3 linked regions of the Homo sapiens genome follow. The protein of the gene in region 3 interacts with the protein of the main gene of each other region in a pairwise test. Each region holds a gene or a part of one and is shown on either strand. Other genes may lie near its edges.

Region 1 (7,000 bases), on a different chromosome or scaffold from region 3:
ATTTTCAAGCTCCCGGTTAATCCCCACCAAAGTTTCTACTGTTCGGCTACTTCAGGATGGCTAACATTTGGAGAGAAGAGGATCCCCCAGGTAGTCTGTACATAATTCAGAGAGAGGACATCAGAATTTTCCATGGTTCTATTTCAGGTATTAAGGTACCACAGTGAAGCATGTCATTTGACTGTGGTGGCAAAGGGACGGCACTGAGCATGCCTAACCTATTCCCTGGCATTTCAGTCCAATCAGCGCATGCTCGCAATGATCATCCATGGGTGAAAAGGAAGAGCTGAAAGACACATGTGCTGAGCAACATTTAATTTCTGCTTGTTAAACGGGTGATTAGGCGCCAGTGTGGCACCATCCAGACACTGGGAATTTGTGCCACTCCATCAGTTCTGCTGGCTCTGCTCATTCTGCTTTCCTGCAGTGGATGCCACTTCCCAAAGAACCATGCTCCAAAAAACAAAAGAGAACTGAAAAACAAAACGGGAAACTTTCAAGATAAAGCACCCCCCCACCCCGACAGGAAAGAGCTACATTGTAGAAAAGGATATTCATGTATGTTTAGAGATATAACTCCCAACACCGGAGCAGTCTGCTGCCACCAATTCCCTAAATCTTGAGGCTTGAGTCTAATTTTGATGCTAAAAGTAGAGCTTAGTGTTGGAAGAAAGATGATGCTTTAAAAAGTTTTCTTCTATTTGCTTGGAAACCCAGTGACCCTTTCCAAGCCAGATCCTAAAGCTACCTTTGCCCATCCTTCTCTCTTTCTCTTCTCCGTGACAGCACTGTGTTAAGCACTAGAGGAGAAAAGATAAGAGTGGATATGGAGGGACTTAAAGATCTGGGACCTGGAAAACCGTGGTAATTGAAATGTAAGGTTATACAGGAGATAATGGCAGGATATGAGGCAGGACAAATAAATCAGGGATAGATTGTGGCAATGCAGGGGGTTTCAATTTTGTTATTTGGGCAATAGGGGGCCAAAAAAAAAAAGTTTCTAAGTAGGGAAGTGACATAGTTAAAGGCGTGGTCAGAATTATAAATTTTCAAAGACCCCTGTGGCTGTGTATAGGATGAATTGGAAGGAGAAAAAGAAAAGAAGTGGAGAAAGCCATCATGTTACTGCTGCAGTTCAAATATGAAATGATCGGTCCTGAACACTGGGTATGGTAACAACAGGACAGAGATGAAAAATACTTCAGAGATAGAAAAGACAGGTCTTGCTGACTGATACTATGTGGAAGGTGAGTGGGGGGAATCTACAATCTACCTTGATGCTGAGGTTTCTATCTTGGGTGACTGGATGGATTTCTTAATTAATCCAACAAATATTGAGGACCCATGTGCCAGGTACTGGGGACAGTGATGAACAAGACAGACATGGTCCCAACTGTCAAGGAACCAGTCTACCAAGAGAAGCAACAGGGCAAACAAATACAGAAAATATTATTTATTTAATTATAATCTTAACTTGCCAGGCGAGGGTGTAATAAAGAATCTAACCTACTCTGCAGTCAGGGACAGTATAAATGATGGTGCCATTCCCTGAGACAGGAAAACATGAGGAGGATCTGGTTGTAGTGGGGGATGAGTATAGCTTGGAATGTAATGAATTTGAGGCAACTGTTGGTATACCTACCTGGGGATTTGCAAGACAGGGAAACTTGGAAAGAGGGGCTGGAGATAGAGTTAAATCCAGGGAAGACTAAGGAATATGGTGGAGAATAAGTTCCTAATGCATAGCCTTCCACTTGGGAGAATGAGCTAGGCCTTCCTGGAGACATCAACAGGACAATACCACATTCAGATGTCAGCGTTTGATGATACCACGAAGGTGAGGCTAAGGCAAGGGCTAACTGCCCAAGTCTACTGGCTCAAGAAAAGAGAAACATTGCCAACAAAATATCTGTGAAAAGTGGCTGGAGAAAGCCAGATGCTGTAATTTGCTGGCATGAAAGAACCTAAAGCCCTGATCAGCCTTTTAGTAACCATCAACTTGGGTTCTGAAACGCTAAATAAAGGTAGGGACAAACGGGCCCACAGAGCAAGCACTCAAGATTTTATATTCATAAATATATACTCTGTTTTTCTCTCCTCTTTCTAGCTGTCTGTTCCAAATCAATGTCAAGACTAGGGAAGAATATGAAGACTAGAAAATTCCCTTCTCAGGTAGGCATGGTGACTCATGCCTGTAATCCCAGCACTTTGGGAGGCTGAGGTGGGCAGATCACTTGAGGCCAGGAGTTAGAGGCCAGCCTGGCCAACATGGCAAAACCCCATCTCTACCAAAAATACAGAAAAATTAGCCAGGCATGATGATGCATTCCTGTAATCCCAGCTACTCGGGAGGCTGAGGTATGAGAATCACTTGAACCCGGGAGGTGGAGGTTGCAATGAGCCGAGATTGCACCACTGTCCTCCAGCTTGGGCAACAGAGTGAGACTCTGTCTGAAAAAAAAGAAAAAAAAAAATTCCTTCTCCTGCTGCCAACTTTTAATGGGTGGCCAGAAGCGAAGAGGTTGGGAATTCTTGGCACTTAGGCCAGAGGGAGAAAAGTAAGATGCTGTTGCCCTTTGTGCCAAAGTTGGTCCCTAATGTCACCATCAGCCAGCACTTCCTTACCTCTTGAAGATTGCCTCTACCACCTCTTGGCCTATGACCTGACTCCTGACCATTTTTGGCTCCCCATCTTGGGTGGCTGCACTATCGCATGGGCATTCTCTGTCCCTTTCCTTGCCTCAGCCCTGCAGCCAAACCTTCCAATGTCACCACAGTCTGATCTGGGATGTTCCAATGAGAAGTTCCCATAATCATGTTTCTCTCTTTAATGTAAAAGGGCCTTCTAGTCTGTGTGGCGTATGAGATGTAAAACTGGAGTATAGAATCTGGGAGGGTAAGGACTGATCTCCGTTGTTCACCAGCACAGAGTAGAACTTCAATGAATGAACAAGTAAAGATTTCCCAAGTAACCTGCCACATAAATCCAGGAAAGTTTTGATGCTATATGATTGGCCTAACAACTTGTTCAAATGAAGCTTTCTCCAAGTGTCTGCTGGGTGCTAGGGAGCTATATTGGTAAATAAAGCTCTGCCCTCAAGGAACTCTCAGTCTATGAAGTTACAGTGAATAAGCAAACTGCCATAATAGAAGAACATACGAGAGCTGTAGAAGAGCACAGAAAAGAAAATAAGTAATACTACCTGGAGAAGTCAAGAAAAACTTCAGCAAGGAGAGGGTATCTCAAGTGAGTCCTGAAAAATAAACAGGAAATTGCCAAGTAGACAAGGCTTGTGAAATGAACACTCTTGACAATGTGAGCGAGTGACAGGATAACTGCATACAAACCCTGTGTATCCAATCAGGAGGATTTAATGACAAAGGACTCTCCAGAAGCCCTCTCTGCATCATTAATTAAAGCCCTGATCACACTGCGATATGATTATCTGCTGATGGCCCTCCTCCGGACAGCCCCACCTGTCACTGCCCCTGGAAAGCTCACCCCAATCTGGATGCGGTCTCAAGCCCTCAAGCCAAAGCAGGGCTTCCCAGGTACAGTTTCCAGGCTCTACCAGGGTCTTGGCTCAGAGAAGACATAGCACTGCCCTCATGTGAAAAGTTAATGAAGAAGGAAGGATGGAAGCCAGATATTCTTTATATTATTTCAATAACTTACATAGGGGTAGCATGCTGATTACAAGTACAGTCCCACACTGCATAATGATGTTTCAGTTGACAACAGACCACGTATACAATGGTGGTCCCATGAGATCACACCATATTTTTACTGTACCTTTTCTATGTTTAGGTACACAAATATTTACGATTGGGTTACATCTGCCTGCTGTATTCAGTATAGCAACATGCCACACAGGTTTGTAGCCTAGGAGCAATAGGCTATCCCACATAAGTGTGTTGTAAGCTATACCATCTAGGTTTGTTTAAGTATATTCTATGATATTGGCACAATGATGAAACTGCCTAATGACGCATGTCTCAGAATGCATCCCATCATTAAGCAATGCATGACTGTAACTGGAAGCTCCCCTATGATCCTGAGGTTCCAGGGAGAGAAGGGGTTCTCCCTGGAATGTGTTCTAAGCTAAGCCTTCCAATGCTCTCCTGGGAATGCGCTCTAGGCTAAGTTTTCCAATACACAGATTTACATGGGGAAGGTAGGTTACTGGTGAGATTAGAAGCCTTTATTTTTCAGTGAAAGCTGGGAGTCCAGAGATGACAGTAGAAGGCACAGCCAGCTCGTAAATCAGCAGCATTCAGGGCTCTGGACAGCCTCTCTATCAGCAAAGCAATTGATGCTTCTGCCAGGGAGGCTGCAAAGAAGCTGTTCATCACTACCTCATTTGGAGACTTGACACCCAAATGGAGGCTCTAACAGCCAAGTTCATAGATCTGAGCAAAGCGCAGAGGCGTCAAATCTGTGTACACCAGTCTGCTAAGTCTTCAAGGGCCCTGAGGGGCAGGCTCTTCTCAGATGCTGCTCTGACTCTCTGAAGGCCTTTACAACCAAAATGAAATGAAATAACTTAAGTCCTAGCTCAGGGGCAGGTTGAGAGAGACCCTCAACATGGCGATGTCAGGTACTTTGGGCCAAAAGAGAGACCCAGGAAACTGTTGCCATTGTGTTCTCTACCTCTGTCCCTCTCCAGCTGGGCTCGAATTGTCTCGTTCTCAGTGATGTGAGTCCACATCGTCTTATCATGGTTCCCCTGTACAGCCTAGGTCTTCATCTTCCCAAAAGCCATGGGAAGCAGACTACTTTTTCCAGAACAGCTAACTGACTGTGCTCAACCTTTATGACCCAGTTCAAACAAGAGCCCCTCTCTGAAGCTTCCCTCCAGGCCAACTCCAACTGAGTCCCTCCCTTCTTGGCCCCATAATGCTAAACTGACAACTTGGCTATGGCATTTAAAGCTTTAATAGTTCCTATATGGATTGACAACAGTATATGCAAATACTTCAAATATATACGTATCACAAGTTTGTGCTTGTGACTGAGAATCTAAAATGGCCTCCAGTGATCCCTGCCTGTCTCCAGGCATTCATGCCCTTGTGTAATTGCCTCCCCTAGAAGGTAGGCAAGACCTGTGACTTGCTTCTAGTCAATAGAAGATGGTAAAGGTGATGACCATCTCTCCTATGTTTACATTATATAGGACAGCAACTTCCATCTCACTATCAGACTCGATTGCCTCTCTCTCCCTTTATGGCTTTGATGAAGTGAGTGATCATACAGAGAGGCCCACGTGGCAAGCAACTGAGGGTGGTCTCCAAATGACCGTCAGCAAGAAGGCCCTCATTCTACGAAGCCACAGGAATTGAATCCTGCCAACAACCTTGTGAGTTGGGAGGCAGATCTTTTCCCAGTCTAGACTTCAGGTGAGACACCAGCCCTGGCCAATGTTTTGACTGCAGCCTTGAGAGAGAATCTGAAGTAGAGGAGCAAGCTAAGCTATCCCCACAGTCCTGCCCCACAGAAACTGTGAGAATGTGTATTGTGGTAATACCACTGGGCAGCAATAGATAATTAATACAGCACGCAAACTCTCAGCTGATAAGACATGCAATCAAAGGAGTGTGGAGACTGCTACTAAACACCTCTAGACCCGCAGAGGAAGGCTCCATCAAACAGCCAAAGGCTAGCAGTGAGAACCTGCACGTTTTAGTGGTAAAAAGAACATTTGTCTAAAAAATGGGAAAGTGAAAAACCTCAAAAATTGGCTTCCCAAGACTTAGATATGAGTCCCAGCTCTGCCTCTAAGAGGTAGGTGATCTTAGTCAGCCCAGATTTACTCAGCCCAGCCTTCTCATCTATACATACAATGTGGTCAAGAGGGCCAGTAAGAGTGGCCAATGAGAGAATAAACTAGGAAATGTTTTGTCAGGCCGGGCGCGATGGCTCACACCTATAATCCCAGCACTGTGGGAGGCCAAGGTGGGTGGCTCACAAGGTCAGGAGTTCGAGACCAGCCTGGCCAACATAGTGAAACCCTATCTCTATTAAAAATACAAAACATTAGCCAGGTGTGGTGACGGGCACCTGTAATCTCAGCTACTTGGGAGGCTGAGGCAGGAGAATCTCTTGAACCCGGGAGGCAGAGGTTGCAGTGGGCCAAGATTGCGCCACTGCACTCCAGCCTGGGCGACAGAGTGAGACTCCACCTCAAAAAAAAAAAAAAAAAAAAGTGTTTTGTCAAATGGAATGTGATAGACACATGTTAGTTTGCCCCAGAACTCTGGGGTGGCCTTGGGTAAGGCACTGTCCTCTCTCGGTCTCAGCTTCCTTATTGTAAAATGAGGAGGGAAGCCCATGCTATTTAATGTCTCCAAGGGCTCTGATCTTCTTTGATTCTAACATCGCATACCCATGAGAAGAGAGGAAGAGGCGAAAGTGGTAGACTATGACATTTTACAATAGTTCCCAGTCATTCTACTGGCCAGGGTGACTGTCTTACCATTAAGGAACTGGAAAGCATTTGACCAGTCATATCTAGTCAACCTACAGGGCCTACAACCTGGATTCCTCAACTAAGAGGGAAAATCCCCATTTGTTTTACAAAAAGGAAAAAATGATCAAGGTAAAGTCAGTGGGAGCCACCAAACATAAACTACTGACGCACTCTGAGAGTGGCAGTAGCTTTGATTTTATTGCTGAGCACCTTAACTATGTGCCAGGAGCTTTTATAAAAATAATCTCCAACCTTCACTACAATCTTATATAGTTTGTGTCATTCTTATTGTAAAGACAAGTTAGCTGAAGCTCAAAGAGAGTAAGCCCCTTACCCAAGGCACATTGCTAGTACATGGTAGGGCTGGGATTTATCATTATTATTATTAGAGACAGGTTCTCTCTCTATCATCCAGGCTAGAATGCAGTGGCACAATCACAGCTCACTTTAACCTCCATCTCCCAGGCTCAAGTGATCCTCCAACCCCAGCCTCCCAACTAGTTGGGACTACAGGAGCATGCCACCATGCCAAG
Region 2 (11,612 bases), on a different chromosome or scaffold from region 3:
TATAAAATGCTTTGTCCAAAGCCTACTACAGTCAAGATTCTGTATGCAATTTCCTGCAACAGTCTCCAGGTCTATTTATGCTAGTAACTGTGAAATATTATTCCTTTGGTGTGATCATTCACAGGGAACCCAAATGAGCTCTTGTACTTAACCTCTTTTGTTTTAGTTTAATAATCAGGTGCAGAACTTTGCTAAAAATCAACACCATACCTCTTGGTCTCGAGATCTGTTTATCAGTCTTTCTCCTTTATTTGAAATGGGACTCTCACTCGTTAAAATCTTCTAGCATAATTTATCAAAGATCACTGAATATGTTTCTTAAGATCAGATCTAAATATCCTTTTAGTATCTTGGGCAGTAATTTCTCTTGATCTGGTAATTTGAACTAATTTAAATTTTTGTGTGCTCTTTCTCCATCTTTTCTTCCTATCCTGAGCTCAGTTTCCCTCTTTGTGATATTTTCACCTGATCAAATCTTTTTCCATGATCAAGATGATGTAATATAGGAAACCGGTAGTTTGGCTTTCCCTCTGCCATCTGTTAACATTCCATATGCTCCGTTCCTTTTGCATTCATCATTTTTATCCTAATTTGGTTTTACATTAACCTTTTCCTGTCTTTAGCAGTGGAGTCCCAATCATTCTGGGTGTTAGTATCCCTCACCTCTTATTAAAGGTCCAGGTTAATCTTTTGGAAAATTTCCATCACCTTCTGTCTTAGTCCATTTTATGTTGCTATAAAGGAATACCTGAGATTGAGTAATTATTAAGAAATAAGGTTAGGCTGGGCACGGTGGCTCACGTCTGTAATCCCAACACTTTGGGAGTCTGAGGCAGGAGGATCACCTGCGGTCAGAAGTTCGAGACCAGCCTGGCCAACATGGTAAAACCCTGTCTCTACTAAAAACACAAAAATTAGCTGGGTGTGGTGGCATGTGCCTGTAATCCCAGCTACTCGGGAGGCTGAGACAGGAGCATTGCTTGAACCCAGGAGGCATAGGTTGCATTGAGCCAAGATTGTGCCACTGCACTCCAGCCTGGGCAACAGAGCAAGATGCTGTCAAAAAGAAAGAAGGAAAGAAAGAGAGAGAGAGAAAGAAAGAGAGAGAGAGAGAAAGAAAGAAAGAAAGAAAGAGAAAGAAAGAAAGAAAGAAAGAAAGAAAGAAAGAAAGAAAGAAAGAAAGAAAAAGAAAAGAAAGAAAGAGGGAAAGAAAGAAATGTAGGTTTATTTGGCTCATAATTCTGCTGGCTGGAAGGATCAAGACTGGCCATGTGATGAGGGCCTCAGTATGCTTCCTCTCATAGTGGACATAGAAGCAGAGCATGCAAGTGTAGAGATCACACGGTAGAAGAGGAAGCAAGAGAGAGTAGGGAGTTGCCAGGCTCTTTTTATATACCAACCAGCTCTCACGGGAAATAATAGCTTACTCACTACCCCATCCTGTCAAAGGGCATTCATCTATTCATGAGGGATCTGTCCCCATGCCCCAAGCACCTTCCATTAGGCTCCACTTCCAACAATGGAGATCAAATTTCTACATGAGATTTGGTGAGGTTCAACAAACCATATTCAAACTACAGCATCTTCCCACTTCTTTTCAGGTGCTTGGCAAGCCTGAGCTTATCAGAGTGCTGCAGGTGCAGTGACACTGATCTCTCAAAGTCCTCCCTTTCCTTCCCATCCAGGACACTCTCTGGCCTAGTGCTATGCTCAACTGGCATTTTCAGTGAATGAATCAATATAGTAGGAATTACAGTCTTAGAACTTCCTGATTAGTGAGTCCTTTCTATGATTATATACTACATATGACATGTGTTGACATATGTTGACTTGTTGTCTTGTGATATGTTCTTATTACTTAACTCTTGCACTGATGTTCTTTTTTTCAGGTGTATATAATTTAGACTGTTCTCCTTAAAGGAAGGGGTAAAATTGTATCTACCATAGCTTGGGTCCTATGCATAAGTAAATGCTTGTAAACATTTAATTCACAAATAAATGAATAAGCAATATTTTAAGGCATTTGGAAAGAAATATTTTTAGCCTAAAAAAGTTATTACTTCATAAAATGCTCAGTACAAGCTTTTTAAGGTGAGATTTTGTTGTATTCTTCTTATTTAATTCCATTACTTGTCATGGCAGCAGGTGGCTGAATGGTTAGAATATAGATTTTGTGCTCAGACATACAAAACTTTGTTTGAATTCTGGCAGTATCGTTGACTAGCTGTGTGACCTTGGTGATATGGTTTGGATGCTTGTCCCCTCCAAATCTCATGTTGAAACGTGATTCCCAGTATGGGGGTGGGCCTAATGGGGGTGTTTGGGTCATGAAGGCAGGTCCCTCATGAATAGATTAATGCCCTTTGGTAGGTAGGGGTGGTGGGTGAGTTCTCATTCTATTATTTCCCAGAAGAGCTGGTTGTTACTAAGAGTCTGGCAGGTGACTGGATCACAGGAGCAGACGCCTCATGAACGGCTTAGCATCATCCCCTTGGTGATGAGTGAGTTCTCAGTCTGGCAGTTCACATGTGATCTGATTGTTTAAAAGAGCGTGGCACCTCCTTTCTTACTCTCTTTTGCCCTCACTGTCTCTTGCTCCTGCTCCCTCTTGCTCCCACTGTCTTGCCTGGTGACACACTGGCTCCCCTTTACCTTCCACTGTGATTGTAAGCTTCCTGAGGCCCTCATGAGAGGCAGATGCTGGCACTATGTACAGCCTGCAGAACTGTGAGCCAATTAAACCTCTTTCCTTAATAAATTACCCAGTCTTGGTTATTTCTTTACAGCAATGCAAAAACAGACTAAGAGGCCAACATGGGGAAATCTTGTCTCTACTAAAAATACAAAAATTAGCTGGGTGTGGTGGCAAATGCCTGTAATCCCAGCTACTCAGGAGGCTGAGGCAGGAGAATTGCTTGAACCTGGGGAAGTGGAAGTTGCAGTAAGCCGTGATCGTGCCGCTGCACTCCAGCCTGGGCGACAGAGTGAGTGAGACTCTCTCAAAACACACACACACACAGACTAAGATATTTGGATAGGTGATTTAACACATTTGGGTAGATTTGAGGCTCAGAAACTCTCTGAGCCTCAAAATGTTCCTCATTTGTAAAATAGGGCTAATAACAGAGTGGTTGGGAGGAATCCATGAGATAATGCTTGTAAAGCACTGAGCACAAGGTGAGGAACACAGGAAAAGCTCAACACATGGTAGCTAATTAACATTTGCCTGTTCTGTGCTACTCATCATGCTTTTCCCTGGGGAGATGGAAGTGGAAAAGGAATTCACAACTCCGTGGAGTTGAGAGTTGCCTAAATAAATAAACATATCGTCATGTATAATGTGCTACAGGGGTGTGGACGATGGAAAAATTAATTTTGCCTGGATAGTCAGGTAAGGCTGCTGGGAGGCAGTGATACTGGAGTTCCAGATTGGGCAGAGGCCTCAGGGATTGGCTCAGAGTTGTCACACAGCAAATGCTTGGGGAATAGATGGTACGAATGACTCATAAGCTCAGGGGTGCTGCCCAGCTGGTGTCTGTGTACACATGGTATCTTGTGTTTTTTGCTTTTCTCCTGCACACATTTCCATGTGCTGACATGGCTTTTGTGTGATTCCCTCACAGCTTGTGTGTGATTCCCTGATTAAATAGCTTCTAATATTTTATTATTATAAATAGACTCTAAGTCCTTGAGGGCAAGAAGTGTGTCTCTGTTCATCCAGACAGTACCTAGTATGTAGTAGGTTCTCAGTAATGTTTGCTACATAAATGAATGAGTGAACTCCTTTGACCGCTGGCCCTGCCATAAGCTGGCTGTGGGATCTTGAGTGAGTCCATTAACCCCTCTGTACCTCGGTGTGTCTGTAAAGTGGGTTAGTATAACTCACAGGTGAGCATATTTCACTATGTGTTGTGAGGACTAAGTGATTTGATGCCCTGCGGCTGAAGGTAGTAAGTGCGCATTAAATAATGGCATCCTTCAGCTCTGATAGCTGTGCTGCTGCATCCAGGAGACATGTACAGGCTTCATGGCAGAGTGAATCCTGGAGTGTTCTGCTGCAACTGCTGGCAGAGGAAAGGTTTCAAAACTCTTTCTTAATGCTAGGGTGAGACCTGTCCACTGATAAGGAGTTTCTATTTGGGATGACTAAAGGTGCCATCTGGAAAGTACCAGGCCCCTGGGACTGCTCCCTGGTCTCCCACCTAGGTGGGATTCCTCAGTGACAGCACTCAGGGGTATCACCGGCTCAGGGAGGGGCCGGAGGTGAGTTCCCTTATCTCCTCTTGCCTCCTTCACTGTAAAACTGGAGCTAATAAGGTTTCTCTCCTGTCAGCCATCCAGTGGAGATAAGTCACCCAGAATGTGACTCCCACATGGGGCTCAAAAAGGTGTTTCTAAATATAAAACTCTGAGGGAAAAAAACCCTCGGGATATAGAAATTCCAGGCCCTTGGAGACGCCCAGGGTCACAGGCTGTGAGTTAAATAAAAAACCCACCAAACTGATGAACTACCCATTTTTAAGGTTTTGGAGAGGGAAAATTAAAAGACTAAGGAGCAATTGTTTTAAACTTTATACCAGGTGTATTGATGGCTTCTAGGCTGGGGCCTTCCAGGAAGTCATTCATCAATTTCATTGTCTATTTATTCACCCCCTGGACTCCTGTTTTGGTGAATGTTCCTGAGTCCAAGATGCTAATCCAATAGGTGGCCAGTAGTGACTGAAGGACATTTAATCCCCACATTTTGTGCTATCTCTGTGGACCTGCTCTGGGGATGTTGGTGGACTGCTGGCTTGGAAAGGTTCTGCTTCAGCCGTAAGGAGAGATAAAGCCAGAGAGGTGGGACTGAGCAACCCGCTGTTTGGTGAATAAATTGCCACTGAAACTCGGGGGCCATTCCCTGAAGTGAATCACATGCAGCCATTGAAGTCTAAGTGATAAGGCAGCCAACAATTTAAAGGAAAATGCTCCAGCCCAAGCCAGGGGGACTGTCCCAAACTCCGGATGAATTCCAGCTGCCCTGCAGAGCAGGGTTTACAGGCATGGGGATCACTAGTGGCTTCAGAGATGCCCCTTTGCCACTTCTCCGGGACTTCTTGACTGTGTCCTATTCTTAAAACCCAGGACCTGCACCACTCAGCCAGGCTCCACCAGCGTGGAGGCCTTGGCAGGCTGAGGCCCAAAGGCTGCCTTTGTGGGGGATTTAAACGGCCAAGAGAGTCTTGCTGAGCCCTGGCCCCTTGACGTCTGGAGTGGCAGGCCAAGCACTCAGTGCAGCAGGAAGATCTGGGTGCCACTAAGGCCCCTAACAGGTGTAGTAAATATCTGTTAAATGAACGAATACATGTTTTGATGAAAGAAGCCCACAGTGCAGTGTGAGCCCAAAGGGGTCTTACTGAAGGCTTCCTGGAGGAAGTGGCAGCTAAACTGAGACATGGAAAACACGGAAGAGTAGCCAGGCCAAGCTGGGGTTTAACTGTCCCTAAAAGAAAGAAACGACCATAGCAGGGGTTTAACCAGAGGTGGCCGAAGGCCTTTCCAGGTGCCCATTTCTCCCGTATAGCTTTGGAGTCAGACGATCCTCGGTTGGAATTCCCAGTTCAGTCCTTACAGTCTGACGTCCCGCACAACCCGACGCCGGCAACTGTCTCCAAACACCCGAGAGCCAGGGCGGGAGCATGAGCGCCTACGGTGTTCCTTGGGGTGGAGCCCTCGCAGTGTCCAGAGGATTTGGGGGCTCCTGCGCCCCCATTTCTCCCATTTCCTGGACTATCCAGGGCAAGCCCCTCACCTCCCTGAGCCTCGGTGTCTTCTGAGAAAAGAAGTCGACCCCAGTGCCTACCTCATAGGATTACGTGAGACAACCGATGTCAAGCAGTGTTGCTTTGCTGCCTGAGAACCCCTGCCTGTCCCTTTCTCTCTGATGCCCTTCGGGGCAGAGATCCAGAGATCCTGCCTGAGTCACTTTGGCGGGTTTAATGCCCAGCCGCGCCAGGCACACAGTAGGTGCTCAGTAAGTGAAACAGTGCCGGGAAGAATTCGGGCCGGGGATGTGGAACTGTGTGTGGCTCTGCGGGCTCAGAGGCCCTCCCCGCGCCCCGCCACCGTGTGCGTTCCGGGGCGGGGCGGGGCGGGGGCGGGGGCGGGGGCGGGGGCGGGACCGGGCGCTCGGGCTCCGCCCCCGGTACCTCTGTAGGCGATCCTGCTCTCGCCGTGGCTTTCGGGTGCTAGGAGACAGTTGCCGGCGTTGGGTTGTGCGAGACGCTAACTGTACCCTCCGGGTTTAACGCTGTGAGGCAGCGCGCGGAGGAACTGGGGATAAGCGCCCCGGAGCCCCCAAACAGAGCGCGGCCGCTGGGGGACAGCGCGCGGCGCCGGGTCGGGGCGGGGCGGCTTTTCTGTCGGAGGACGCGAACCGGCACGCTGCGCCTTTAAGGAGTCCAGCTGGGCTGGGCGCCGGAGCTGGGAGCGGCGCGGGTAGGAGCCCGGCGGCAGGTCCCAGCCCGGGGCTAGAGACCGAGGGCCGGGGTCCGGGCCCGGCGGCGGGACCCAGGCGGTTGAGGCTGGTCAGGTGAGCGGAGGCGGGCGGGCGGGCGGTGGTGCGCTCCTAGGGGGATGGGGCGCCCTGATGGCCCCGTGACCTCTCCCCCAGTGTCTCCCTGCAGCGGCGCATCGAGTGGAAAGAGTCGGCGATCTGCACTTGCCTTTCCACTCCGCTCCCCGCGCGGGCGCTGCCCCCACCTCCCGCTGCCTGGATAGGTTTGAGATGCCCGAAACCCGGCGCCCCATTTCCTGGGTCCAGCCAGCCTCTTGAAGCCGGGGGACAGAGTGAGGACGGGTCGGGACCTGCACCCTCTTTCTACTTCGCCTCCCCACCCCCTGCGCCCGCAGCAGCCCTTAGGCGCCCCTCGCAGTGCCGAGAGGATTTTGGGGTCCTGCAGCCCTGTTTCCCCCATTTCCTGGAGAAGGACTGCAGCTCGCCCACCCAGATAGCATCTTGCTCCGTGTCACGCGCCGCCTCCGCGCCGTCCCCAAGATCTCGCTCCGCTACTCCCCTCCCCCAGCAGCCTTTCAGCTTCCCTTTCCCCAGCCTGCCCCGGCTCCCGTGCCCTTGCGCCCCTTCCGTGTCGAAACACTTGAATCAGGATGCTGTCCAGCCAGGTACCCGCCGGCAACTTGCGGTCCCCCGCCTACAGCGACACAGGTTTCACGGCTGCCTTAGAAATGCGGATTGTGTAACGCCGGCTGCAGGGCAGTGCACGTGCAGGGTTTGCGCCCCTGAGCCCACAGCGAGGCCAGGTGACAGAGTGAGGCATGGGGGAGTGGGGGAAGAGGAGGATGCCAGAGGGTCTAGATACTGTGCATGCAGAGAATATGTATTTTGAGCCCTTTGTATGCCCCAGGAGCTGGGTGGTTAGGAAGAGGAAATAAAGTGGGGGTCTTACTCCAGCTGGGACCTGGAGGCCCTCATTTATCTCGCCGCCCCCCTCCCCGCTGCTCCCGCCTGCTCAGAAATCCCTAGTGGCTCCACCTGGCTAAGAGTTTAAAGTAGTTTATAATGAATAATAGCTGACATAGAATAAGCAAATCTTGTGTGCCAGGCCCTGTCCTAAGCCCCTTAAAAGAATTACCTGCCATACTTTCCCCAACAGCCCCTTGAGGTAGGTACCACCGCTGTGCCCATTCCTGAGAGCAGGAATATGAGGCTTCCAGAGGTGGTACCTTCCCAAGACACGAAGTGAGTCTGGCCTCAGAACCACCCCCTTCCCCCAACCGCCCCCCCAACCCGACCTCGAACCACTAGACTTTTTACCCAATTTCAACAAATTCTTATCAAGAACATTGTTATAATATAGGAAATTAGAAATAACAGAAATTAATCACCTGTGTTTCTAGCACTAATTTGTTTTTCTCAGACCAGCAAGGGCCTCTCAGCTTCTGGTAATAGTACCCACTTTAAAGGGTAGTGGCAATATTTAGATAAAATAATGCACAGGGCCCAGCATGTTTTAAGCACTCAGAAAGCAGCAGCTGTTATTATGAAGAGTGGTAGTTGACCACTACCTTGAATTACTGGAAAAAAATAATTAATAAATGGCTCACACTGACTCTACAGAAATTAACCATTTTGTGTGCTCAGAAAGGCCTATGAGACTTTCTCTATTTTCATCTTTTTATTATTTTTATTATTTTGCCTTTTCGACACATTCTGTGGCTTTCGTCAACTCCAAATTATCCATTGTCTTTGTAGTTAGAGACAGAAGTGCCCTTCTGGTTTTTTTAGCTTTTAAAATGTGTGACCTTTGATTCTGTGAGCATCTGCAAACCTAGAGTAAAAGATGGGAATGCAGTTTGTGCAACTGGGAAGTAATTCTGAAACTTGATATGAGAAAAAAATTGTCCTTAGAGGTGATCCTGGTTTGCAGTATGCGTTGGGTGAGGTCTATCCTGGGGGCGAGAAGTTAGACTCAAAGATTATCTTTGGGTTTGGAGGGAAGAAAGGCAAGCATGAATGTTTTGTCTCGGTGTGGTGGGCTCACACCTCAAAGTGGCCAGCACTTTGAGAGGCCAAGGCAAGAGGATCACCTGAACCCAGGAGTTCAAGACTAGCCTGGGCAACATGGTGAAACCCCATCTCTACCAAAAAAAAAAAAAAATTAGCTGGGAGTGGTGTTGCGTACCTGTAGTCCCGGCTACTTGGGAGGCTGGGGTGGGAGGATTGCTTGAGCCTGGGAGGTCAAGGCTGCAGTGAGCTGAGATTGCTCCACTGCACTCCAGCCTAGGTGAAAAAGTAAGACCCAGTCTCAAAAAATAAAATAAATAAATAAAGAATGAGTGTTTATCCTAGTAGGCTAGCTAAGATTGGAAATCAGCTTCACTATGTCATATTCTTTAAAAAAATTTTTTTTTTTAGAGATGAAGTCTCACTGTGTTTCCTACTCAGGCTGACCTGGAACTCTTGGGCTCAAGTGATTCTCCCACCTCAGCCTCCCAAGTAGCTAGAACTACAGGTGTGCACCACCACACCTGGCATGCTATGTCATACTTTTTATGAAACTCCTGGTTATTTTGGTGATTAGATCAATTATTACCGTGATGAGTGTTCAAAAGAAAAGAGGCAAGACATCCCCATCAAAGCTAAATATTTGGAAGATGCCAGGAAGCTAGTTCTGCAAGTTGAAAAAAAATTCTTTAAAAATTTCTCCTATTTGAGTCTTAAAAAAATTTTTTTTTTAAGGGACAGGGTCTCACTCTGTTACCCATGCTGGAGTGCAGTGGAGCAATCTTAGCTCACTGTAACTTTGAACTCCTGGGCTCAAGCAATCCTGCTACCTCAGCCTCCTAAGTAACTGGGGCTACAGGTGTGCACCACCAAACCTGGGTAATTTTTTTTTTTTTTTTTGAGACGGAGTCTTGCTCTGTCGCCCAGGCTGGAGTGCAGTAGCGCGATCTCGGCTCACCGCAACCTCCGCCTCCCGGGTTCAAGCAATTCTCCTGCCTCAGCCTCCAGAGTAGCTGGGATTACAGGCATGCACAAGCACGCCTGGCTAATTTTGTATTTTTAGTAGAGACGGGGTTTCTCCATGTTGGTCAGGCTGGTCTCGAACTCCCGACCTCAGGTGATCTGCCCGCCTCTACCTCCCAAAGTGCTGGGATTGCAGATGTGAGCCACCGCGCCCGGCCAAACCTGGATAATTTTGAAATTTTGTTGTTGTTGTTGGTTGTCACAACTTGTAGGTAACATCAAGTGGGTAGAGGCCAGGGATGCTGCTAAACGTCCTACGATGCACAGGACGGTGCCACAACAAAGAATTATATGGCCTCCAGTGTCACTTGTGCCACAGTTGAGAAACTGAAACTGGATATGATTTTCACAACATTAAAGTCCTTTCTGACCTTGCATGTAGTTGCCTCTTCCAAGAAGATCAAAGTATTCTCCTAAACCGGACCCTCAGAAACCCTCTGGATCCTATTTGACGCTTCCCAATCCTAGAGGCCACTTGGGGTGTTGCTGCCTGTGGCTGGATGGGTTTGGGGTCTGTCATGAGCTTCTGTGCGGCTCTCTGGTGCTGTACCAAGGAAACTGCTGATTCAGGGGAGCAGGACAGCACTCAGGAGGTGTGGGCAGAGGTTCTTACACTGCTGCAGGTTGGGATCCTCTTCTTTTTAAGTAATATATTAACAGCAGCCTTTGCTCTTAGGCATTTTTCCAGAAGCTGTGGCTGTTTGGCTGTTGGCATTGGGTGTTTGCCTTGTGATATACCCAGAAAAGGATTCATACGTTACATATGATGAAGTCTGGGGATGGGACTGGATTCTGAGAGTATAAAGATGGCAATGCAGACCCTGCCCAGAGACTACTCAGGCATCTCAATAGGCCTGAGCAGTGGCCATGCAGGGTGGTGGAGGTATGGCAGGGCTGCCTAACTCTGCCTGTGAAGTCAGGCAAGATCCCAGCAGTGCAGAGTGAATGCTTAGTATCTGCCTGTCACTGCTTTGAACAGTTTCCTTGCATCATCCCATTTCATCCCCACACTGAGGTAGAATTCTAAGAGGTTAGGTCACTTGCTACAGTCACATGGCAAGCATGTGACCAGAGCAGAGTCACAGTGGTCAATGGCAGAGCAGAGATTTGAACCCAGGTTGTTGAGCTGCAAAACTGAACTGTCAGGAGCATTTACAGAGAGCGGCAGTGCTTTAATAGCTAAGACTTTTAGGATGGGCTGGAGCTCGCCAGGCGAGAGGGAGAATAGGCGTGCCGGGGAGAGAGGAGCAGGTGTGTCAAAGTCCCGGAGGTGTGGGAGAGCACGGCATGTCTGGGGGTTGCAGATCATTATTGGAAGGGATGGAGGGCAGGCAATAGGCAGGTGATAGAAGAAGATGACCCTTGAGAGATGGGCAGCACCAAATCCTAAGTGGCCTTCAACATCATGCTGAGAGCCACTGCCAACCACCAGTGAATTAGCAGAGAGGAAGAGAAAGCTGTGTGACATTGAGCAGCTTGCTTAATTTCTCTAGGACCCAGCTGCCCATCCAAACTAAAACCTCTAAAACTATACTGCTCTGACGAATGTTTCTTTCATTTGTGGCCATATGAGCAGAGTGAAGGAATGCCTGCATTGACACTGGTGGGGCAGCCCTGTTGATTCATGACTTCTCCCCCTAAGGCTGTGTGATGGGTGCAGGGAGTGGTTTCTTCTCAGTCAGCAGTTGGTTTTGTTTCAGCTTTCCAGCTTATCATTTGGCATTGACCAAGTGTCTGCCAAGGGCAAGGCACAGTGTATGCTAAGTACTGTGACAGAGGCAAAGATGTGGTCAGACTTGTTTTTGAGGAGCTTGCAGCCTAGTGGAGGGTCCAGCCAGTGTTCTTTTTATTGTTATTATTATTATTATACTTTAAGTTCTAGGGTACATGTGCACAACGTGCAGGTTTGTTACATATGTATACATGTGCCATGTTGGTTTGCTGCACCCGTTAACTCGTCATTTACGTTAGGTATTTCTCCTAATGCTATCCCTCCCCCATCCCCCTGCCCCACGACAGGCCCCGGTGTGTAATGTTCCCCACCCTGTGTCCAAGTGTTTTCATTGTTCAATTCCCACCTATGAGT
Region 3 (10,950 bases):
CATCTTCCAAAAAGAAACAAACTGTGACCCAAGAATATTAATCCAGCCAGGTCATCATTTAAGAATAGTCAATAGGCTCATATGTTTAAACATGAGTCAAAAGAAAATGTAGCCAACCAATAAGTAAAAGGAGAAGCTGCAGTAAGACTGGTGATAGGCAATGAATCGACTTTTTTAAAAAACAGATCAAAGACTAAACAACCAGTAAGAAATATGTTTTCAAAAGATAACTATTATAAAACTTGGTAACACAAAAATAACATTGGAACAAACAAGAGAGAAAGGAGGAAACTCATAGGAAGGAATATGAGTGTTTATTTTCTTCCCTTTCTAAACAGAGTCTATTAAGTCAATAAACAGGTTTAAGTACATTAATTAATGTTACAAAGAAAACCACTAGAAGGACTAAAATAAGACTATAATAAGCAAAACTCTAGAGGTAGGAGGAGGGAGAAGTTAAAGAAACCATATTAGCGTAAAGTTTCCCATTTTCCAGAGCAGGAACTCCATAAATACTGAATAAATTTCCTAATTCATGAAAGAGGGTAATGATATAAACATATAAAGTAATTAAAGGTAACTACCAGAAGAACTGAAAAAAGACAATAAGCTTCCAATAAGCTTCCAAATCCAAAGAAGGAAAGTATGAATGTATGAGCACACACAAAGAAAAAAAGAATCTATATCGCAAAATAGGACTAAGAAAATACTACAAATTAGGAGGAAAAACATAATTAAGGCCAAAATATATCTGATATCAATAAATATTGTGTGAAAATTCACACAATATTTATTCATATCAGATATAAGATAGAATAAGAAAAAATAATATGAGATATAAAAAAGAGTAAGACTCACAAATTGGGTCAAGTGACAAACTATATTTTCCAAAGACAGCAGCAACAATATCTCCTCTTCCACAAAGTCTTCTAGCACCTTCTTATTCCTTATCAAGAGCAGAGCCTAATTCCCATTTCCTTGAATGTGAGTGGGCAGCAGAAGCGATGCTATGACATCTTAGCTAGATTGTAAAAGCTTGCGAGCTAGAACACCCCACAAGTGAAGTACTGGGCTGCCACGTAAGCAGTCCCACCACCATGAGGCCACCATGCCATGAAGAAGCCCAAACGAAGGCACAGGGAAAAACATGTGGAGAGGCCATGGGACCTCATGAAGAGGAGATGGCTCACAACCCCCATCATTCCAACTACTGTCTGACTACAACTACTCAAGACCCCAAGCCAGAATCTCCCAGCAGAGCCCTTCCCAAGATCCTGACCCATAGAAACTGTGAGATAATGGCTGTTGTTGCTCTAAGCCACTATGTTTTGGAGTGATTTGTTAGGCAGCAATAGGTTACCAACCATTATTTCCAGAAAAGACCACTAATAATCTAGAAAACTGGTGGGAAGGGGTTTTTTAGGATCTCTTCTCCAGTATTATAGAGAAAGGTAAAGTTGGGAAGCAAAACTTGGGAATTACATGATGAAGCTGCCTATTCAAGATAGGTCCCTAATGATAAGGACTCAGTTGTAGTTGTTGCTTCCTATGATTACCATCAGACATCTTAATGGATTATTTGAAAGTTCTACACTGATACTCACCAACCACTTTACTCTGAAGGAGAAGAGTGCACTAAAAGCAAATATCACCCACAGTACTGGACAGGCAATAAGTCCCAACCAAAAGATTCTTGATTCAGCCTCTGACACAGTTTTATTCTCTTGAGAGGACTCCTATAAAAGAACATAAATTCAATTATCATGTTGTGAAATTTATCAATAAAAAGTTCAACATGTTTAATAAAAAACATATTACCCACAAGTTCAAATATTAATACACACAGCCCAACTCCTAAGTTAGAACCCAAAAATACATGACTATCACTCTTGTAATTTTAGGAACTGATCTATATTAACTCAAGAATTTTGCATTTTCAGGGCAGGATGGATGGTTTACCACAACTCATGACAGTAAAGAGTGGTCTCTGATAGGATTCTATTCAATTCTTCTTGCACTTGTACTATTTATTCATAAGGAAGCTCTAAATGATACCTTTCCTACCAATGATCAAGGAAATCACAGTTATAATCATTCTGGAGACTAAAAGGTCAAATTAGGGTCCAGAGGAAAAAAAAAAAACGGAATCAAGGGATTCTGGACAATAATCAAAATGTCTTAGCAATACCCAGGAAGTTACAAGGGTGGTAAGTTGTTTCCAAGGTAGATTCTATAATATAAAAGAATACAGGCTCATTGAACACAGTGCCACTTTCTTAAAATAACTTGTCAATACCCTTGGTGTACTGTCGCCAAGAATTTGGTCCTCTGCTTCCAAAACTTATTTCCACAAGGAAAGTGAATATTCACTATAGTGTAGCAGGCTAACCCAAAACAGACCAGGATCCCCAGGGCTCCTGAAGGCAGAAGCTTAGGAATAGAGTGCTCCGATCAGATATTCTATCCAGCTGCACTCCTCCTCCTTTTTCCTGCCCAGAAATGAAAGACGACCACAGGAGCAAAGACAGAACAAGATGTTAAAAGCAGTTATCTGCTGAGCATAGAGGGATTTATGGAGACACTAACAAAGGCAACACAGAGATCTTTTATCAGCAATCCCTGACAGGCAGCTTAGCACACTGTATGAACTCAGACCCAGTGTCTTCCCTCAAAGGATTCTGTTCTGTATATTGCTTGTTTCTGGTCTGAACTAGACAGAAAAATGCATTAAATTCTAGAAGGCCATCTCCTTTAGTGCTGACATGCCAAGTGATTTGGTATAGTGTTTTTAATTCTGAATACTTCATCTTCCAGTATTTAAATATAGTCTACAAATAATTTAGCTGATAACATTATTTAAAACAAAAAAGGCACTTTACCTTTCTAGATTCAAACACCCAATGGCTCTTTCCATCTTCATCAATGTGATTCCACCAACGTAGGCCAACCATTAGTCTACCTGTGACATTCTGGTGAAGATTAATATAAACAGGCACATTTTAAAAGCATTATTTAAAGATCTATCACAAGCTCCTATCTTAGTGTAACATTTCACAAACAAAAACCTTCAGCTTTACCTCCATAATATCCAGTTAGCAAAGACTACTATGTATCAGGCCTGGCTAAGTGATTAAGTAAAATGGTAATGGCAGGACTAATAGGGGTAGAGGTGACAGAGCAAGCAACAAGTCCACCCATAAACATTACACCTTCTCTTTTCCCTCATGAACAATTTGCCCTTTCTCCAGTTCCCTAATTTTCCCTAAACCCCTTGCTATTTGGTTACTGTGACCTACTTTACATCCTGACTATAGCTACATGTATTTTACAACTACATATCCCTGAAAATGATTATAGACACTGGCCTTCAGTCAGTCTCTCAAGTTACCAAGCTCTTTTCCTACTTACTAAGGTAATAAATTAGTTTGATAGCTTTCCTAATCTTTATTTACTCAACAAATATTTACTGAGCATCTACTATGTGCTGGTAATACAACAGTGACTAACAGATACCAACTCCTTCCTCAGGGAAAGAGGTGAAGAGAGGCAGACAACCAATGCACAAATGTACCATTACCAACTGAGTTAAGTCCTGCAAGGGAAAAGTGTGAGATGCTTGAAGAGTATAACAGGGAAATTGGATCTAGTCTGGGTATCAGAAAATGACTCTCTGAGGAGTCAACATTTGGAATGAAATATAAAAGATAAATAAGAATCAACAGTACCATGGATGTTTAATTAATGGTGTCCACTAATAGATTCAGTGGTTCTGTGAACCTCGATGGGTTAAAAAAAAATGTTACCTTCATTTTCATTAACCTCTGGCTAAAATTTAGCATATCTTTAAATTATGAATGTAGACAACAAACTATGAATGTAGGTAAAATTAAAAACACCCTGACACAATAGAAATCACAGGCATTTTTTTATTTTGTACTATATTTGCTGCAGTTACCTCAAAATATTGTAGTTTTGTTTTTTGTTTGGTTTTGTTTTTTGTTTTTGAGACAGAGTTTCGCTCTTGTTGCCCAGGCTGGCATGCAACGGGGCGATCTCAGCTCACCGCAACCTCTGCCTCCCGGGTTCAAACGATTCTCCTGCCTCAGCCTCCCAAGTAGCAGGGATTACAGGCATGCGCCATCATGCCCAGCTAATTTTGTATTTTTAGTAGAGATGGGGTTTCTCCATGTTGGTCAGGCTGGTCTCGAACTCCCAACCTCAGTGATTCACCCGCCTTGGCCTCCCAAAGTGCTGGGATTACAGGCGTAAGCCACCACGCACGGCCTCAAAATACTATTTATGCTCACCACTGCTTTGAAAGTAGTTAGCATATCATTAAATTATGAATGTAGACAACAAACTATGAATATAGGTAAAATTAAAAACACCCTGACACAATAGAAACCACAGACATTTTTCATTTTGTACTATACTTGCTGCAGTTATCTTAACATATTGTTTACGCTCACCACTGCTTTGAAAGTAGTTATTAGACCTGCCACTAGATCTTACCATTAATAAATTCATAAAGTATAGTAGTCCTCCCTTATCTGCAGGGGATACATTCCAAGACCCCCAGCAGATGCCTCAAATTGTGGTTAATACCAAACCTTATATATGCTATATTTTTTCCTGTAAGTACATACCTATGATAATGCTTAATTTATAAATAATGCACAGTAAGAGATTAATAAGAAATAAAAATAGAACAATTATAACAACATAATCTAATAAAAGTTATGTGAATGTAGTTCTCTCTCCTCACACAGTATCTTACTGTTTAGTGTAGTGTATAGCAGTAACTGAAACCGCAGAAAGTGAAACCTCAGATAATGGGGGAACTACTACACATATAACTCAATCAGAAATTTACTTTTCTAATATTTTTAAATTATATTTCAATATAAGTGACTTCCTTTGAAATCTTATGTACTTTATATATGTGAAAACTTATTCATGAGTCTATGAAAGGGACCCATGGCATAAAAAGATTAGGAATCCCTGTATGAAGGTGATGTGGGAGGAAGAAGAGCATTCCAGATAGAGCAGCAGGCACTGATGCCCTAATGAAGAAAGTACAATCTATGGATTTATGGGACTTGGTCATTAATTGGATATGGAGTAGGAAGGAGGCAACTGATACATTTCTGGTTTGCTCAAGTAAAAAAATAGTGATTCCAGGCCCCACGAAAGGGAACACTCAAAGAAGAAGAGCTTTTGGGGAGTGGAAGATGACAAGTAGTATTTTACACATGTTAAGATATAAGTTGCCTGGCCAGGCATGGTGGCTCACTTGGGTTCAAGACCAGCCTGGCTAACATAGTGAAACCCTGACTCTACTAAAAATACAAAAATTCGCTAGGCATGGTGGTGCATGCCTGTAGTCTCAGCTATCTAGGAGGGTGAGGCAGGAGAATGGCTTGAACCCCAGGAGGCAGAGGTTGCAGTGAGCCGAGATCACACCACTGCATTCCAGCTTGGGTGACAAAGCAAGATTTTGTCTCAAAAAAAAAAAAAAAAAAAAAAAAAAAGATTTGAGATGCCTTCAAGACAGCCACATAAAAACGTCAAGAAGACACATGGAGAGGCCTTGAGTTGTGAGGACAAACCTGAATGGAGATACAGATCTGGGAGGCAACACAGCTTACAGATCAGCAATTAAAACCAGAAGCATAAACGGCACTCCTTAGGAAGGGAATACAGGAGAAGAAAAGGAAGAGTCTTATGAGACCAAAATTCCTATGGGAGAGATGCTAAGTAAAAAAAAAAAAAAGAGCTGGCAAGGGAGACCTAAACCAGAGGTCTCTTCTATAGGTATTTTCAAAGAATGCTCTCAGAATACTTTCAAACTCTTCTGTGTTCCCATTTTCTAACTCTTTATTTCCTGCTTTTATCTTTATTAGTTTATTTTCCTGATTTCTCACGCTTATTGCTTGTTTTTGAAATTTCTGGACTCAAGTAGTCCATTATTTTCCCTCTTTCTTGTCTAAAATAAAAGGCTTTAGTCTATTATTTTCCCTCTGAATTCAGTTTTTGACATATTCAGAAAGTTTAACTGTAAATGATCACCATTAAGGTATAAATAACCTATATTTACAGTTTTTGCTTCCTTTTAAACCCAAGATATGTAGTAGTTCGCTTTTTAAAAAGAATTCCAATTTCGACAACTACTTTCTATTAATTTCTAGTTCTGTTTCATTGGAGTAGAAAATGTAGGTGCTTTGGGCAATTTTATTTTGATTTTCTTCACAGTGATATTTAGTCAATTTTTGTAAATGCCCCACAGGCATTTAACAAGAAAGTATTCTGTCATACAAAGTCCCAAATACTGCTATCAAATTGATGTTGCCAATTATTTCATTCAGATCCTTCAGAACTTATTTATTTTTTGGCACTTTGGTTTGTTAAAGATAGTAGTTTGTTAAACTCATCATAATGCTTTTCTATTTTCTAATATTTCCAATTTTTTTACTATACATAGTTTGATATAATTTTACTCTGTGAATGATCTTCACTGTGATTCATAAAATCACCTTTTTCTGTTCCTCTTAGTGCTTTCTTACTCTGATCCATATCTCATCTGATAATAATACAATGCCAAGTTTCTTTTTGTTTGAGTTGATCTGATGTTATCTTTGCCTTCTTTTATTTTTTCTAATGTCATTAATGTTGTTAGATCTTTTGTTTGGACTTTGATTTCTGACCAATCTTAGTATTCTTGTCTTTAAATGGGTAGTTTAATCAAATTACATTTCCTATTATAATGAATTTGCTATTACTTACATCACTTTATACATGTACTTTCTGATTTAAGCTTCCTTGACAGTTGCTTTGTTTTCCTTCTTTTGCTCTATGAACTGTTTTACTTGCTCCATCTTCTCCAATGTTGCAGAAGATACACGACTGGTTTTAAATTTTACTAATAGTTGCCATTATTTTTTTTTTTTTTTTTGAGATGGAGTCTTGCTCTGTTGCCCAGGCTAGAGTGCAGTGGCGCAATCTCGGCTCACTGCAAGCTCCGCCTCCTGCCTCAGCCTCCTGAATAGCTGGGACTACAGGCACCTGCCACCACGCCCGGCTCATTTTTTTTTTTTTTTTTTTTTTAGCAGAGATGGGGTTTCACCATGTTAGCCAGGATGGTCTCGATCTCCTGACCTCATGATCCACCCGCCTCAGCCTCCCAAAGTGCTGGGATTATAGGTGTGAGCCACCGCGCCCAGCCATAGTTGCCATTAAATTTTTAAAACCATTATTTAACCTTTTTTACTCAATTTGTCAGAGTGAAGAATAAAATAAAAACCAATATAAGCTTTAGCATTTAAGCATACCTTTAAATTATTTTCCCTTCTCTACCTCTTCTTTATCTTCATTAACATCACCTAGGGCAAGCCTATCCAACCCTCTGCCCACAGGCCTCATGCTGCCCAGGACAGCTTTGAATGCGGCCCAGGAGAAATTTGTAAACTTTCTTAAAACATTATGAGATTTTTTTGTGTGCGATTTTTTTTTTAAGCTCATCAGCTAATGTTAGTGTATTTTATGTGTGGCCCAAGATAATTCTTTCTTCCACTGTGGCCCAGGGAAACCAAAAGATTGGACACCTAGGGGTTTAGATGAAGATTGATTTTTTGTTTTTTTAGTAAGTACATTGAGATTTATAACAATTACGACACATCTCTATTTTAACTGTTTCAGAACCCTGCTTATCCCAAGTCCACTTAATAATTTCCCTATTCTTGACTTCTTAATTTTGCTTTATATCTCCATTGCTTTGCTATCTATAAGTAGTTTTGCCAAGGATAAAAGGGTGCCATTTTTTAAGCCCTTGTTTAAAAACAAAAATAAACAAATAAACCTTATCAGAAAATAAACTATTTTGATCGCATTTTTTAAAACTCTAAACCCAGAAAAATTTTAAGAGTTTGGAAATTACCAGGAAGAACTGACTGGAAAGCATGTTCTATTTGGCTGAACAGAAATTTTATGAACAACAAAAAGAAACGTGTATCAAAACTGTGAGCAGTATGTACTAAATACTTTGGAGCATAAAGTAACAGAAGAAATTCAAAGAAATGCAAGCCAAAGAAGACTGGACAACAGAAAAACCTAAAGAAAACAGACCTTTGAAATCTTCCTTCTCAGCATTATGCGGCCTATGGAAACTGGCCATCACCAAGCCAACCACTTCAGGTATCTTTAAGAATTAAAAGATGGCCAGGCGCAGTGGCTCACGCCTGTAATCCCAGCACTTTGGGAGGCTGAGGTGGGCAGATCCCTTGAGGTCAGAAGTTCGAGACCAGCCTGACCAACATGGAGAAACCCCGTCTGTACTAAAAATACAAAAAAATTAGCCAGGCGTGGTGGTGCATGCCTGTAATCCCAGCTACTCGGGAGTCTGAGGCAGGAGAATCACCTGAACCCAGGAGGCAGAGGTTGCGGTGAGCCAAGATCATGCCATTGCACTCCAGCCTGGGCAACAAAAGTGAAACTCCGTCTCAAAAAAAAAAGAATTAAAAGATCTAAAAATGGCTACATTGGTGGGTGTGAATAGGGTTGTAACATCTTACTAGTCTTTGAATCAGTATGTGTCTCTGAAACTCCAAAATCAGCCTTTGATTTTTTTCTCCACTATTTTACTATATTTTCGAACACACACAGTTAAATTTTACAGTGAATACCCAAATATCTATCATCTAGAGTCCATATTTAATATTTTATTATGCTTACTTATCTATTTATTATGTACCTATCTATCCATCCATCCATCTCTCTAATCATTGTTCTTGAGTTTGAAACCATTTCTTACACTTCTTTCTATCCCCTACAGCAGGGTGTCTCAACCTTGGCACAACTGACATTTTGGGTCAGGTAGTTCTTTGTTGCAGAGGGGCCGTCCTGTGTGTTAGGATATTTAGCAGCATACCTGCCCTCTAGCCACTAGATGTCAATAGCACACTCCTCCCACCTCCAGTCATGACAACCAAAAACATTTTTGGACACTGACAAATATTCAGTGGGTGGCAAGCTTGTCTCTGGTTGAGAAACACTGCCTTAAAGCATCCATAGGAGCCTTTTCAAAAGGTAGGTATTTTTTAGGTATTTGTGGACAAACTACACTGGGGCCTTATCTAGAAATTATATACAACACACCTACAGGTAAGCCTGAAGCAAAACCCATGGTATGGATTAGAAGCAACATTGTAGGGTCTATGGTTGCTAGTCACTTTTGTTTGTTTATTTGACTTTAAAGCTGATGTAGGTTAGAATATGGCACAGAAAAATCAGCAGCACAGTAACCTGCATGTCTCATCTTGTATTGTCAAAGGGAAAAAATGAAAAAAAAAAAAAAAAAAAAAAAAACTACATGCAATTTGATATATCTAGCACTTCAACACAGATGAGGTTTGAAGTAACAAAAGATTAACAATAATGCAAAATGCTAACTCATATTTTTATACATCATTTTCATATTAAATATAATTTTAAAATAAAAACAATCAAAATTACCTTCACTGCCCAAAAGTCACACGACAACAACAAGATAATTGTCACCATACAGGTAATAAAGCTGCTGCTGAGCAACCCACAGAGAAGATAGACGATGATTGCACTGACTCGAAAGAATAAGTGGAAAAACGATGCTACTGGATGTCTGAAAACCAAAACACAATGAAAGAAATGCAATTACATTTTACTACAGGTACTAGCAAATGTAGAGAAAAATGTTTTAGCCATCGTGTAACTGTGAAGAGTTTTGTCAAAATAAAAGAGGTGACTTTAGTAGGATGAAGCAAACCTCCTAGCTCTCTTTTTCTTAAGCCCCACTATTTGACTAGGCCCTGTAGTTACAGAAAATACACTATGCACAGATGACTTTAACACCTCATTGAATATAAACTTTCACAAAATAGATAATAAAGAATTTTATCTCTCTTGGAGAAATAAGGAAACTGTATCTTAGAATTTGAATCCTATTTTCAAATCACACCAAAAGAATTCCTTAGCCCTCAGAAATCACTCAGACATTAAGACAAAGTTATCAGGTAGTTTGTTTCTTTCTTTCTTTTCTTTTTTTTTTTTTTTTGAGACGGAGTCTCGCTCCGTCGCCCAGGCTGGAGTTTGGTGGCACAATCTCGGCTCACTGCAAACTTCACCTCCTGGGTTCACGCCATTGTCCTGCCTCAGCCTCCCAAGTAGCTGGGACTACAGGCGCCTGCCACCACGCCCGGCTAATTTTTTGTATTTTTAGTAGAGATGGGGTTTCACCATGTTAGCCAGGATGATCTCAATCTCCTGACCTCGTGATCCACCTGCCTCGGCCTCCCAAAGTGCTGGGATTACAGGCATGAGCCATCGTGCCCAGCCTGTTTCTTGTTTTTTAATAGCTTTTTTGAGATATAATTCACATATCATACAATTTACTTATTTAAGGTAAACAATCTAATGGTTTTTAGTACATTCACAGATTTGTACAACCATCACTCCAATTTTACAACTTTTCATTACCCCAGACAGAATCTTTGTACCCACTGGCAGTCATTCCCCATTTACCTTCAAACCCCTCAGCTTCTAGCAACAGCTAATCTATCTTCTGTCTCTACAGATTTGCCTATTCTGGACATTTCATATAAATGAAATCATACAATATGTGGTCTTTTGTGACTGGCATGAAAGATGAAAGAAAAGTAAAAGACAGCATTTTAGCAGGGTTCAAGTAGAATTTGCTTTCAGTAAGTGAATTTCTTTAGAGAGAATTAAATTTAGAATAGAAATGTTATGTGATTTTGAAATGTGCACAATAAATCAAAATGTAATGTATCTATAGAAACTATATAAAGAAATGGTACATTCTTGGAAAATAGCACAGAATTAAAAACACAGGTGTTCAAATAATTGGATTTGCTGATTTTAAAACTCAGTATTAAGTATGCCAATTATTCACAAGAAAAT

What was found.
Region 1: the proteins of TVP23B (region 3) and YIPF1 interact in binary tests that used the Homo sapiens proteins (3 or more experiments, as listed by UniProt).
Region 2: the proteins of TVP23B (region 3) and ABHD6 interact in binary tests that used the Homo sapiens proteins (3 or more experiments, as listed by UniProt).

What each region holds. Positions count from the first base shown.
Region 1 is NC_000001.11:53,851,798-53,858,797, forward strand, and holds part of YIPF1 (protein YIPF1), read right to left. Parts: intron 3,255-7,000; exon of another isoform or gene 3,204-3,254; intron 474-3,203; 3' UTR 1-473.
Region 2 is NC_000003.12:58,231,346-58,242,957, forward strand, and holds the start of ABHD6 (monoacylglycerol lipase ABHD6), read left to right. Parts: upstream 1-6,446; 5' UTR 6,447-6,571; intron 6,572-11,612. UniProt on the Homo sapiens protein: Lipase that preferentially hydrolysis medium-chain saturated monoacylglycerols including 2-arachidonoylglycerol. Through 2-arachidonoylglycerol degradation may regulate endocannabinoid signaling pathways.
Region 3 is NC_000017.11:18,789,598-18,800,547, reverse strand, and holds part of TVP23B (Golgi apparatus membrane protein TVP23 homolog B), read right to left. Parts: intron 9,653-10,950; coding exon 9,508-9,652; intron 2,970-9,507; coding exon 2,880-2,969; intron 1,737-2,879; coding exon 1,605-1,736; intron 1-1,604.